2 separate regions of the Homo sapiens genome follow, and region 1 is linked to region 2. The links come from fine-mapping of genetic effects on gene expression. Tissue or cell type: prostate. Region 2 holds a variant in brackets; the other region holds the start of a gene. All regions are shown on one strand. Distances are from middle to middle.

The links. PIP is the estimated chance that this variant, and not a neighbour inherited with it, causes the effect.
Region 1: it holds the start of EFEMP2, and the variant in region 2 is fine-mapped to the expression of EFEMP2 in prostate (GTEx, PIP 0.98).

The regions. Positions count from the first base shown.
Region 1 is chr11:65,870,063-65,875,178 of GRCh38, reverse strand. EFEMP2 (EGF containing fibulin extracellular matrix protein 2) reads left to right here and starts at 2,379. Exons shown (of 11, transcript NM_016938.5): 1 at 2,379-2,496; 2 at 2,818-2,935; 3 at 3,161-3,209; 4 at 3,816-4,022; 5 at 4,521-4,643; 6 at 4,942-5,058. The coding sequence starts at 2,825. RefSeq lists a silencer at 1,317-1,376.
Region 2 is chr11:65,403,115-65,408,384 of GRCh38, reverse strand. FRMD8 (FERM domain containing 8) reads right to left here. Exons shown (of 11, transcript NM_031904.5): 10 at 3,317-3,521. Among named protein-coding and RNA genes, the nearest start is that of NEAT1, 17 kb to the left of the region's middle. RefSeq lists an enhancer at 3,638-4,137. The variant T/A (reference allele first, on the strand shown) is at 2,374.

The DNA of each region.
Region 1 (5,116 bases), 470 kb before region 2:
GGCCAAGGTAGGCGGATCACAAGGTCAGGAGATTGAGACCATCCTGGCTAACACGGTGAAACCCCATCTCTACTAAAAATACAAAAAATTAGCCGGGCCTGGTGGCGGGTGCCTGTAGTCCCAGCTACTCAGGAGGCTGAGGCAGGAGAATGGCGTGAACCCAGGAAGCGGAGCTGGCAGTGAGCCGAGATGGCGCCACTGCACTCCAGCCTGGGCGACAGAGCAAGACTCCGTCTCAATTAAAAAAAAAAAAAAAAAAAAGAATTCACCTATATTGTGGCATGCATCAGTACTTCATTAGTTTTTATGGCTGAATAATGTTCGACTGTGTGGATGTACTGCATCTTGTTATTCATCAGTTGACGGCTTTTGTGTTGTTTCTGCATTTGGCTCTTATATATAGTGCAGCTATAAACGCTGCGTACAGATTTGTGTGTGTGTACATATCTTTTCAATTATCCTAGGTATGTATACCTAGGAGTGAAATTGTCAGGTCATGTGATAACATTTTGAGGAACTGCCAGACCATTGTCCACCAACAGTGCATGAGGGCTCCAGTTTCTCCGTATCTTTGCCAACACTTGTTACTGTCTTTCTCGTTTTAAAGAGCTATTATTATTATTACTATTTTTGAGATGGAGTCTCGCTCTGTCGCCCAGGCTGGAGTGCAATGGCACAATCTCGGCTCATTGCAACAACTGCCTCCCGGGTTTAAGAGATTATTCTGCCTCAGACTCCCGAGTAGCTGGGATTAGAGGCACGTGCCACTACACCAGCTAATTTCTTTGTGTTTTTGTAAAGACAGGGTTTCACCATGTTGGCCAGGCTGGTCTTGAACTCCTGACCTTGTGATCTGCCCACCTTGGCCTCCCAAAGTGTTGGGGTTACAGGCGTGAGCCACCGCGTCGGGCCTATTATTATTATTATTATTTTAAGATGGAGTCTCCCTCTGTCACCCATGGAGTGCAGCAGTGTGATCTGGGCTCTCTGCAACCTCCACCTCCCGAGTTCAGGTGATTCTCCTGCCTCAGGCTCCTGAGTAGCTGCGACTACAGGCACGCGCCACCACGCCTGGCTAATTTTTATATTTTTAGTAGAGACGGGGTTTCACCATGTTGTCCAGACTGGTCTCGAACTCCTGACCTCAGGTGATCCACCTGCCTCGGCCTCTCAAAGTGCTGGGATTACAGGCTTGAGCCACCGCGTCCGGCCCCTAAAGAGCTATTATTTAACCTTCTGCCCCAGCAGCTGGGAGGGATGGTGGTGGCAGAGTGGCGAGGAGCGGGCACTGCGCAGTTCACCTGAGCCCCAGGCGCTCGCCGCGGGACCCACCAGCACGTCCCCTCCTCGGCAGACTCCCTCCCCGGGGTCACGTGGAGGGCGACTGCGGGGATAAGCAGGGATGGCAAGGGGAAAGGAAGGGCGGGCCCCAGGCGGGGGATCCCCGGACACGCAGTGCTTTCCCGCCTGGCCCCGCCCAAAGACGTGGGCAAACAGAGGCCACGCCCTTCCTGGGAGCCAGCCCCGCCCATACTCCGCCCCAAGGACACGCCCCCACTTCGGGCGGAGGCGGAAACCGGGCGGGGGACGCTGGTGCGAGGAGGTCGAGGAGGCGCCTTGGCACCCGACTCTGGCATCCCGCACGTCCGACATCAGCCCTGCCCTCCTTCTCAGGGGCTTCCATTCATTTTGTGCCAAAAGGGAACTGCCGCCCTCGCCCCCAAACTTGTAGCTTTGTGGATGGAGGGTGTGGGGGAGGCCGTGTGTAGTGAAAGGACCACCCGGCTGAAGACGGTCCTGGGGGTGGAGGGCAGGAGGGAGCGAGAAGGACAGTTCTGCTCCTGGGAGCCTCTCGTTCCTGGGCGAGGGTCTGGGGACCCTGGATGAAGTTTTAGGATCTTTTACAATGACGGTCTGGGGCAGAGAATAAAATTTTGCAGGGAGCAGATTGAGGGTCTGGAGGACTGGGTTAGGTGGGCTCTAGGTACCCAGGACGATCTCGGGAGGCGCACAATGAGAATCTGGGGGCTCCAGGATTACGGTGTGGGTGCACAGGATGAAATTCTGGGGGCGCAGATTAGGTAGGACCTAGGTGAGCAGGATGACATTTTTGGTGAGCGTCTGGGGGCCCCCGGGTGAGTCTGGGGGCCTGGCATCAAGGTCGGGGCCCCAGGATCGAGCACTGGGGGACCCTGGTCCGGCGCCGGGAGGCGGCTCCTGGCGGCGCCGCGGGGGACCGGGTAGGGGCCTGTGGCTGGCCGGGGGCGGAGAAGCGGGGGGTCGGGGTCCCTCCCCCTGGCGCTGGCTCAGGAATCCGCCGAAGGGCGGGCGGAGGCGCCGGGGTGGGCCGCGCCGCGGCAGGCGGGCGGGCGGGGGGCGCTTCCTGGGGCCGCGCGTCCAGGGAGCTGTGCCGTCCGCCCGTCCGTCTGCCCGCAGGCATTGCCCGAGCCAGCCGAGCCGCCAGAGCCGCGGGCCGCGGGGGTGTCGCGGGCCCAAGTGAGTGGCTGTGACCGTCCGTGGGGGAGGGCGTGGGCCGGAGTCTCGGCCGAGTCCGCGGCAGCGTAGCGCCCACAGAGGCCCGCGCTCCTCGGCCTTCGCCGCAGGGGCGCGGGGCGGGGGCGGGGTGGCCGGGGCGGGTGGGCCTGGGACCCGGGCCTGGGACCTGGGCCTGTGAGGAGTCGGCCCCCAGCCCTGGGAGGCCCCGAGGCCCAAGCACGGTCCTGAGCGGGCAGTGGCGGGGGCTGGGCTCGGGCTCCCGGTACAGGGAGTTGAGGTGCCGCGGGCAGAGGCCCCTGACCCGTGTCCACCATCTCGCAGCCCCAGGATGCTCCCCTGCGCCTCCTGCCTACCCGGGTCTCTACTGCTCTGGGCGCTGCTACTGTTGCTCTTGGGATCAGCTTCTCCTCAGGATTCTGAAGAGCCCGACAGCTACACGGTGGGGACAGTGAGGGCCGCTGGCCTGGGACAGGAAGGGTAGGGAGGAAGAGACCGGGACCCAGGGTGACTGCTGCCGGGGAAGTCTTCCTCCCCTGGCTGGTGGAGAGCTGGGGGCCATTGTTTGGAGCAGGCCGGAGGGTGGCCAGGCTCAGGCCCTAGTCTTGGCCTGGCCAGTTGGAGGAGATCTTAGGGTGACCACTGGCCACTTCTGGTTCCCTTCCAGGAATGCACAGATGGCTATGAGTGGGACCCAGACAGCCAGCACTGCCGGGGTGTGTGTGCCTGGGGGACCAAACACCCCCAGGAACCCGGAAAGGGATTGATAGCTGCTTTCCAAGGGACAGCCCCACCTCCAAGAACTGCCGTGGGAGCCCAGCAGCCCGTTCTATGCCCAGCTCTGCTACACAGAGGCCAGCTCTGGCTCTCTGGAGGCCAGTTGAGCTAGGGGTGGCCTCATCCTCTCCCAGAAACCCAGGAAACCTTGTCCCTACCCCTCAGAGGAGCTGGATCCTGTACGCCTTCTCTGAACCACTCTCCTGTCCCAGCTCTTTGTCTCATCACAACCTGGGAGGGTAGCGTCCCCAGGGGTGGGTAAGGAGGCCCCCCATCTTGGGCTGAGCTAGGGCTAGGGCCGTGGGGAGGGATAGAGACCCACTTGCAGGCCGAGAATGAGGGCAACAGTGGGAACAGCTGCCCCATCTCCAGCCTTGGCCAACCCTGGGGAGGGGTCCTGAGCAGGCAGACTTAGCTTGTTGAGCAGAGTGGGAAGGCTTTGCTGGGGCCACACATCTCAGAGAAGGCCGAGCTGGGTTCCTGCCTCCGCTCCCTCCAGGGCCAGCCCAGGAGACTGGCTGTGCCCAGCAGGCCCCTCTCTGCAGATGTCAACGAGTGTCTGACCATCCCTGAGGCCTGCAAGGGGGAAATGAAGTGCATCAACCACTACGGGGGCTACTTGTGCCTGCCCCGCTCCGCTGCCGTCATCAACGACCTACACGGCGAGGGACCCCCGCCACCAGTGCCTCCCGCTCAACACCCCAACCCCTGCCCACCAGGCTATGAGCCCGACGATCAGGACAGCTGTGTGGGTGAGTGGGGACTGCTCTGGTGCCTGGCTTCCAGTCCTCTCACCAGGCGTCTTAAACTCAGACCTCATGTTCCTCCCCAGCTCAAAAGGGCCACTGGTGATGTCCACACCCTCATCCAGACACTCATGTTGTTTAGGACCTGCCGCAGGTGGCCCCAGCTTGTGTGCCACTGCTCCAGCCAGCTCCGGGCCCCTCCCCTCGGTTGCTGCAGAGACACTGCAGGAAGTCTGCCTTCCAGTGTCTGTCCCCTGGGAGCCACAGGCCTTGGAGGAAGGACAGTCCAGGAATCAGTGTTGCTGGGGATGTTTGGACAGGACCTTATTTCCTGTGCAACCCCCAACATGTGGTTTTAGAGGTTAGGGGTGCCTTTCCTGATGGCTCCAGGCTGGTGAACTCTTACGCGTGCTGTTGAGAGAACCGAATACAAGTGTTGGAACTATCTGTCATGTTGGGTGGTGTGCGGGATCCCAGGCAGGGGCTGAGTGGTGTCTCTCGCAGATGTGGACGAGTGTGCCCAGGCCCTGCACGACTGTCGCCCCAGCCAGGACTGCCATAACTTGCCTGGCTCCTATCAGTGCACCTGCCCTGATGGTTACCGCAAGATCGGGCCCGAGTGTGTGGGTGAGTCCAGGAAGCAGCTTCTGTAGTCCCGGCTTTGTGTCCCTGGTCTGGCCCTTGCCCTAGCACCTGACCCCCATTCAAGCCAGGCTTCACCCCCGGCCCCTGCCACCTCACCCTCCGTCATCAGACACAGAGGACTGTAGCGGGGAGTGTTTGGGAGGTGTCCTGGCTGACCCTGCCTAATTCAGCTCCTCGGACACAGGATTATGGGTGGTGAAGCCTTGAGTCCCAGCCGGCTCGAGCCCACCTGCCCTCTGCCCTCTGCCCTCCGCCCTCCTTCTCCTGCCTCTATCCCTAGACATAGACGAGTGCCGCTACCGCTACTGCCAGCACCGCTGCGTGAACCTGCCTGGCTCCTTCCGCTGCCAGTGCGAGCCGGGCTTCCAGCTGGGGCCTAACAACCGCTCCTGTGTTGGTGAGGCTGGGCTGGGCCAGGCTCCTGGGTCCTGGGCAGGGAGGTGTGAGGTGGGGGC
Region 2 (5,270 bases):
ACTTATTCTAGGGCTGGGCGCGGTGGCTCACGACTGTAATCCCAGCACTTTGGGAGGCCAAGGCGGGCGGATCACCTGAGGTCGGGAGTTGGAGACCAGCCTGACCAACATGGAGAAACTCCGTCTCTACTAAAAATACAAAATTAGCTGGGCGTGGTGGTGCAAGCCTGTAATCCCAGATACTTGGGAGCCTGAGGCAGGAGAATCGCTTGAACCCGGGAGGTGGAGGTTGCGGTGAGCCGATATCGCACCATTTCACTCCAGCCTGGGCAACAAGAGTGAAACTCCGTCTCCAAAAAAAAAAAAAAGAAAAAACAATTATTCTAAAAATTACAAGACTATAAAAATGACATGTTCATTGTAACAGATTTACGTGCTCCAAGAAGTACAAAGAAAAAGTCAAAGCTACAGCCGCTGACGGCCACAGCTGGGCCCGCCCTCCTCATGCGCATGGCTGCACACATGCTGTCCTGTTACTCATTTCCTTTTTTTTTTTTTTTTGAGACAGAGTCTCGCTCTGTCGCCCAGGCTGGAGTGCAGTGGCGCGATCTCCGCTCACTGCAAGCTCCGCCTCCCAGGTTCACGCCATTCTCCCGAGTAGCTGGGACTACAGGCACCCACCACCACGTCTGGCTAATTTTTTTTCTTTTTGTATTTTTAGTAGAGACAGGGTTTCACCTGTTAGCCAGGATGGTCTCGATCTCCTGACCTCGTGATCTGCCCACCTTGGCCTCCCAAAGTGCTGGGATTACAGGCGTGAGCCACCACGCCTGGCCATTTCTTTTTACTGAATATTATTTTGTGAACATCTTGCCATGTAAAATGTAGATCTCTGGCCGGGTGCGGTGGCTCACACTGTAATCCCAGCACTTTGGTAGTCCAAGGTGAGCAGATCACTTGAGGTCAGGAGTTTGAGACCAGCCTGGCCAACATGGCGAAACCCCGTCTCTACTAAATATACAAAACTTAGTTGGGCGTGGTAGCTCACCCCTGTAATCCCAGCTACTAGGGAGGCTGAGGCAGGAGAATCGCTTGAACCCAGGGTGCGGAGGTTGCAGTGAGCCAAGATCACACCATTGCACTCCAGCCTGGGTGACAGAGCGAGACTCTGTCTCTAAATAAATAAATAAATAAATAAATAAATAAATAAATAAATGTAGATCTTTGTTACTGCATTAAAAAACTTTTTATCATGGAATAATTCTAGATTTCTAGGAAAGCTGTAAAGGTGTAGAGAGTTCCAGAATACCGCCACAACTTCTCCCGATGACAGCATGTTCTGTCACCACATCAGAGCTAAGGAATGAACACTGACACAGTATCTGTTAACTAAAATTCTTTTGGACTTCAATAGTTTTTCCACAAATGTCCTCTCTTCCAGGATCTGACACAAGATGCATTTAGGGTATTCCTTTTTATTATTTATTTATTTATTTATTTATTTGAGACGGAGTTTCGTTCTTGTTGCCCAGGCTGGAGTGCAGTGGCGTGATTTTGGCTCACTGCAACCTCCACCTCCTGGGTACAAGCGATTCTCCTGCTTTCAGCCTCCCAAGTAGCTGGGACTACAGGCGACCACCACCACATCCAGCTAATTTTGTATTTTTAGTAGAGAAGAGTTTTCTCCATGTTGGTCAGACTGGTCTCGAACTCCCGACCTCAGGTGATCCACCCGCCTTGGTCTCCCAATGTGCTAGGATTACAGGCGTGAGCCACTGCGCCCGGCCAGGGTATTCCTTTTTAAAAACAGGGTCTCGGGCTTGGTGTGATGTTTCACGCCTGTAATCCCAGCACTTTGGGAGGCCAAGGCAGGTGGATCACGAGGACAGGAAATTGAGACCATCCTGGCTAACACGGTGAAACCCCATCTCTACTAAAAACAAAAAATTAGGGCCGGGTGCAGTGGCTCACACCTGTAATCCCAGCACTTTGGGAGGCCAAGGCGGATGGACCACAAGGTCAGGAGATCGAGACCATCCTGGCTAACACGGTGAAACCCCGTCTCTACTACAAATACAAAAAAGTAGCCGGGCGTGGTGGTGGGCGCCTGTAGTTCCAGCTACTTAGGAGGCTGAGGCAGGAGAATGGCGTGAACCCAGGAGGTGGAGCTTGCAGTGAGCCAAGATCGCGCCCACTGCACTCCAGCCTGGGCGACAGAGTGAGACTCTGTCTCAAAAAAAAAAAAAAAAATTAGCCGGGTGTGGTGGCACACACCTGTAGTCCCAGCTACTCGGGAGGTTGAGGCAGGAGAATCACTAGAACTGGGGAGGCGGAGGTTGCAGTGAGCCGAGATCATGCCACTGTACTCCAGCCTGGGCGACAGAGTGAGACTCCGTCTCAAAAATAGTTAACTAATTAATTAATTAAAAAAAA[T/A]ATATATATATAGGGTCTCATCGTTGTCACCCAGGCTGGAGTGCAGTGGTACAATCGTAGCTCACTGCAAACCTCCAACTCCTGGGCTCAGAGATACTCCTGCCTCATCAGCCTCCCAAGAAGGTGAGACTACAGGCATATACCACCGTGCTCAGCTAAGTTTAAGTATATTTTGTAGAGACAGGGTCTCACTCTGTTGTCCAGGCTGGTCTTGAGCTCCTGGGCTCAAGTGATCCTCTTTGTCTTGGTCTCCCAAAGTACTGGGATTACAGGTGTGAGACACTGCACCCGGCCTGGGTACTGTATTTTTACCAGCTGCACTCAACACCCCAAGATGTGGTCACAGCAGTGATTTACCCAACGCTTTATTTATTTATTTATTTATTTTTGAGACGGAGTCTTGCTCTGTCTCCCAGGCTGGAATGCAATGATGCAATCTCGGCTCACTGCAACCTCTGCCTGCTGGGTTCAAGCGTTTTTCCTGCCTCAGCCTCCCGAGTAGCTGGGATTACAGGCGCCTGCCATACACCTCGCTACTTTTTTTGTATTTTTAGTAGAGACAGGGTTTCACCATGTTGGCCAGCCTGTTCTTGAACTCCTGACCTCAGGTGATCCTCCTGCCTTGGCCTCCCAAAGTGCTGGGATTACAGGCGTGAGCCACCGCGCCCCACCTACCCAACACTTCAGTAACAGATGTTGAGTCGTTTCCCGGATCACATCCTGGACAATGCTGCAGAACGTCTGTGACGCAGCAGTGAGAAGGGACAGGAAAGGCACTATGGCCAAGGCCCGGGCTCGGCCTGCTCACAGCTGTGTCCTGAGATGGAGGCCAGCTCACACTGGGTCTGGAGCTGCTCTGCAATGCCCTGTCCTCAGGAACTCCCCCCGGTGTGTGCACGCGCATGCGTGTTTGTGTGTGCACATGCACAGAAGGGCTGCTCACCGTCCTCCACGTAGTCGATGGTGGAGAGATGCTGGATCCGGCTGGACACCACACTGCCCTGCCTCCGCAGCTTGGGGCGCTGAACAGGAGCCAGTGAGGAGCTGGGGTCCGAGGGCGAGCCAGTCGCACTGTCCTGGGGGCCTGCGGGCTCCGCCGCCTGGCTCAGTTCGATGCAGTACTCAATGAGACTGCTCATCAGTTCGGCCTGGGGAGGAGGGGGCAGTGTGAGGCCTGGCCAGGGCCCCCTTCCATGCCTGTTGCTGAGCCTGAAATGAGCTCTGCTCTCTGGTTGGGGAAGCAGGGGAGGGGACACACATCACTCAGGAGGGAGGGAGCAGGGAGGCAGGGGAGGTGTCCCACTTGGGTGACTGTGAAGGTGAGTCCTGGTGGATGAGGAGGGGTCTCCAGATCTGGGAGTTCAGGTGGGAAAGAAAGAACATTCTGGTCAGAAGGCACAGCCCAGGAAGGCTGACTCCATGGGCAGAAGCAGGTGGGGAGGGAGGGGGTAGGGAGCCAGCTGCTGCAGAGAGGACGAAGAGTGGGGAAGCGGGGCGGGGAGGCGGGTGGTGCTGGCTGGGAGGAAAACCTGCAGCCAGGAGGAAGGGGCGCGATGTCACCAGGGCAGGGGCGGGCGGCTCCCTGCCAGCACGTTCTTCAAAAGTGACTCCTACTCAACAGGTGTGAAGCATGAGGCACACTGACAGAAAAGATGCAGCAGCCGGGTGCCAGCGGGCACAGCTGGGCACCAAGGACAGGGCCTTCAGGGGTTTGAGGGAGTCGCAGAGGGTGTTAAAAGGGTGGCACCCCTTAGGACACAGGTATTTCCTGAGTGCCTCCCACGTGCCAAGCACTGCTGCAGGCCTGGGATAAGATGAGGCCAAGTAGACAGGAATGGCCACCTGTGCTCCTGACTGGTGGGGCTGGGTCAGATGCTGGAGTGGCCCTGCGGAGACTGGCCTGGCTCCTGCCTCTCCACAGGGCAGCTACAATCCCTCTGGGCTGGGCAGGTGGGCACCGCTGCTCGGCCCAGAAGGAAGAGCAGAGGCCTGGTGGGCTCTCCACGCTCCCTGCCCTCAGCTCAGTCCACCCACACTCCTCTCCTCACCAAGTGGACTCCACCAGCCAAAGGGCAGTGGGCTGGCGAGGGGACGGCAGCCGGTGGGGACAGAGTCCTGAGTGCAACCATAACAGGGAAGCCTACTAAGTTTCCTAGAACAAAAACTCCTGCACAGCAACATGCCTCTGAGGCTCAGGAAGCCTGCCGTTCAAATGCAGCCAAAAGAGGAAGCTCTGCTGAACATCTGTCCAAGATAAAACTCAGCAAGCCAGCGTCAGAAAGGAACTTCCTCAACCTGATGAAGCGCATCTCTGAAGAACCCACAGCAAAATCCCACTTATTCAGTGAAAGACAATGTTCTCTCTCAGGCCAGGTGCGTCAGGGACGCCTGCGCACACCTATCCATCCTACACTGGGGGTCAGAAGCACTGTCAGGCAAGGCAAGCAAGAGGCACACAGATTGGAAAGTGAGACCCAGCTGTCCCAACTCACAGACCACACGACTGTCCACATAGAAAGTCCCAGGCCAGGCCAGGTGCCGTGGCTCACGCCTGTAATCCCAACACTTTGGGAGGCCGAGGCGGGTGGATCACCTGAGGTCAGGAGTTTGAGACCAGCCTGGCCAACATGGTGAAAACCCATCTCTACTAAAAATACAAAAATTAGCTGGGTGTGATGGCAGGCTCCTGTAATCCCAGCTACTCAGGAGGCTGAGGTGAGAGAATCGCTTGAACCTAGGAGGCGGAGGTTGCAGTGAGCTGAAATCGCGCCATTGCACTCCAGCCTGGGCGACAGAGTGAGACTCCATCTCAAAAAAAAAGAAAAAAAGAAAAAAGGCAGACACAGGGGCTCATGCCTGTAATCCCAGCACTTTGGGAGGCCAAGGTGGGAGAATCA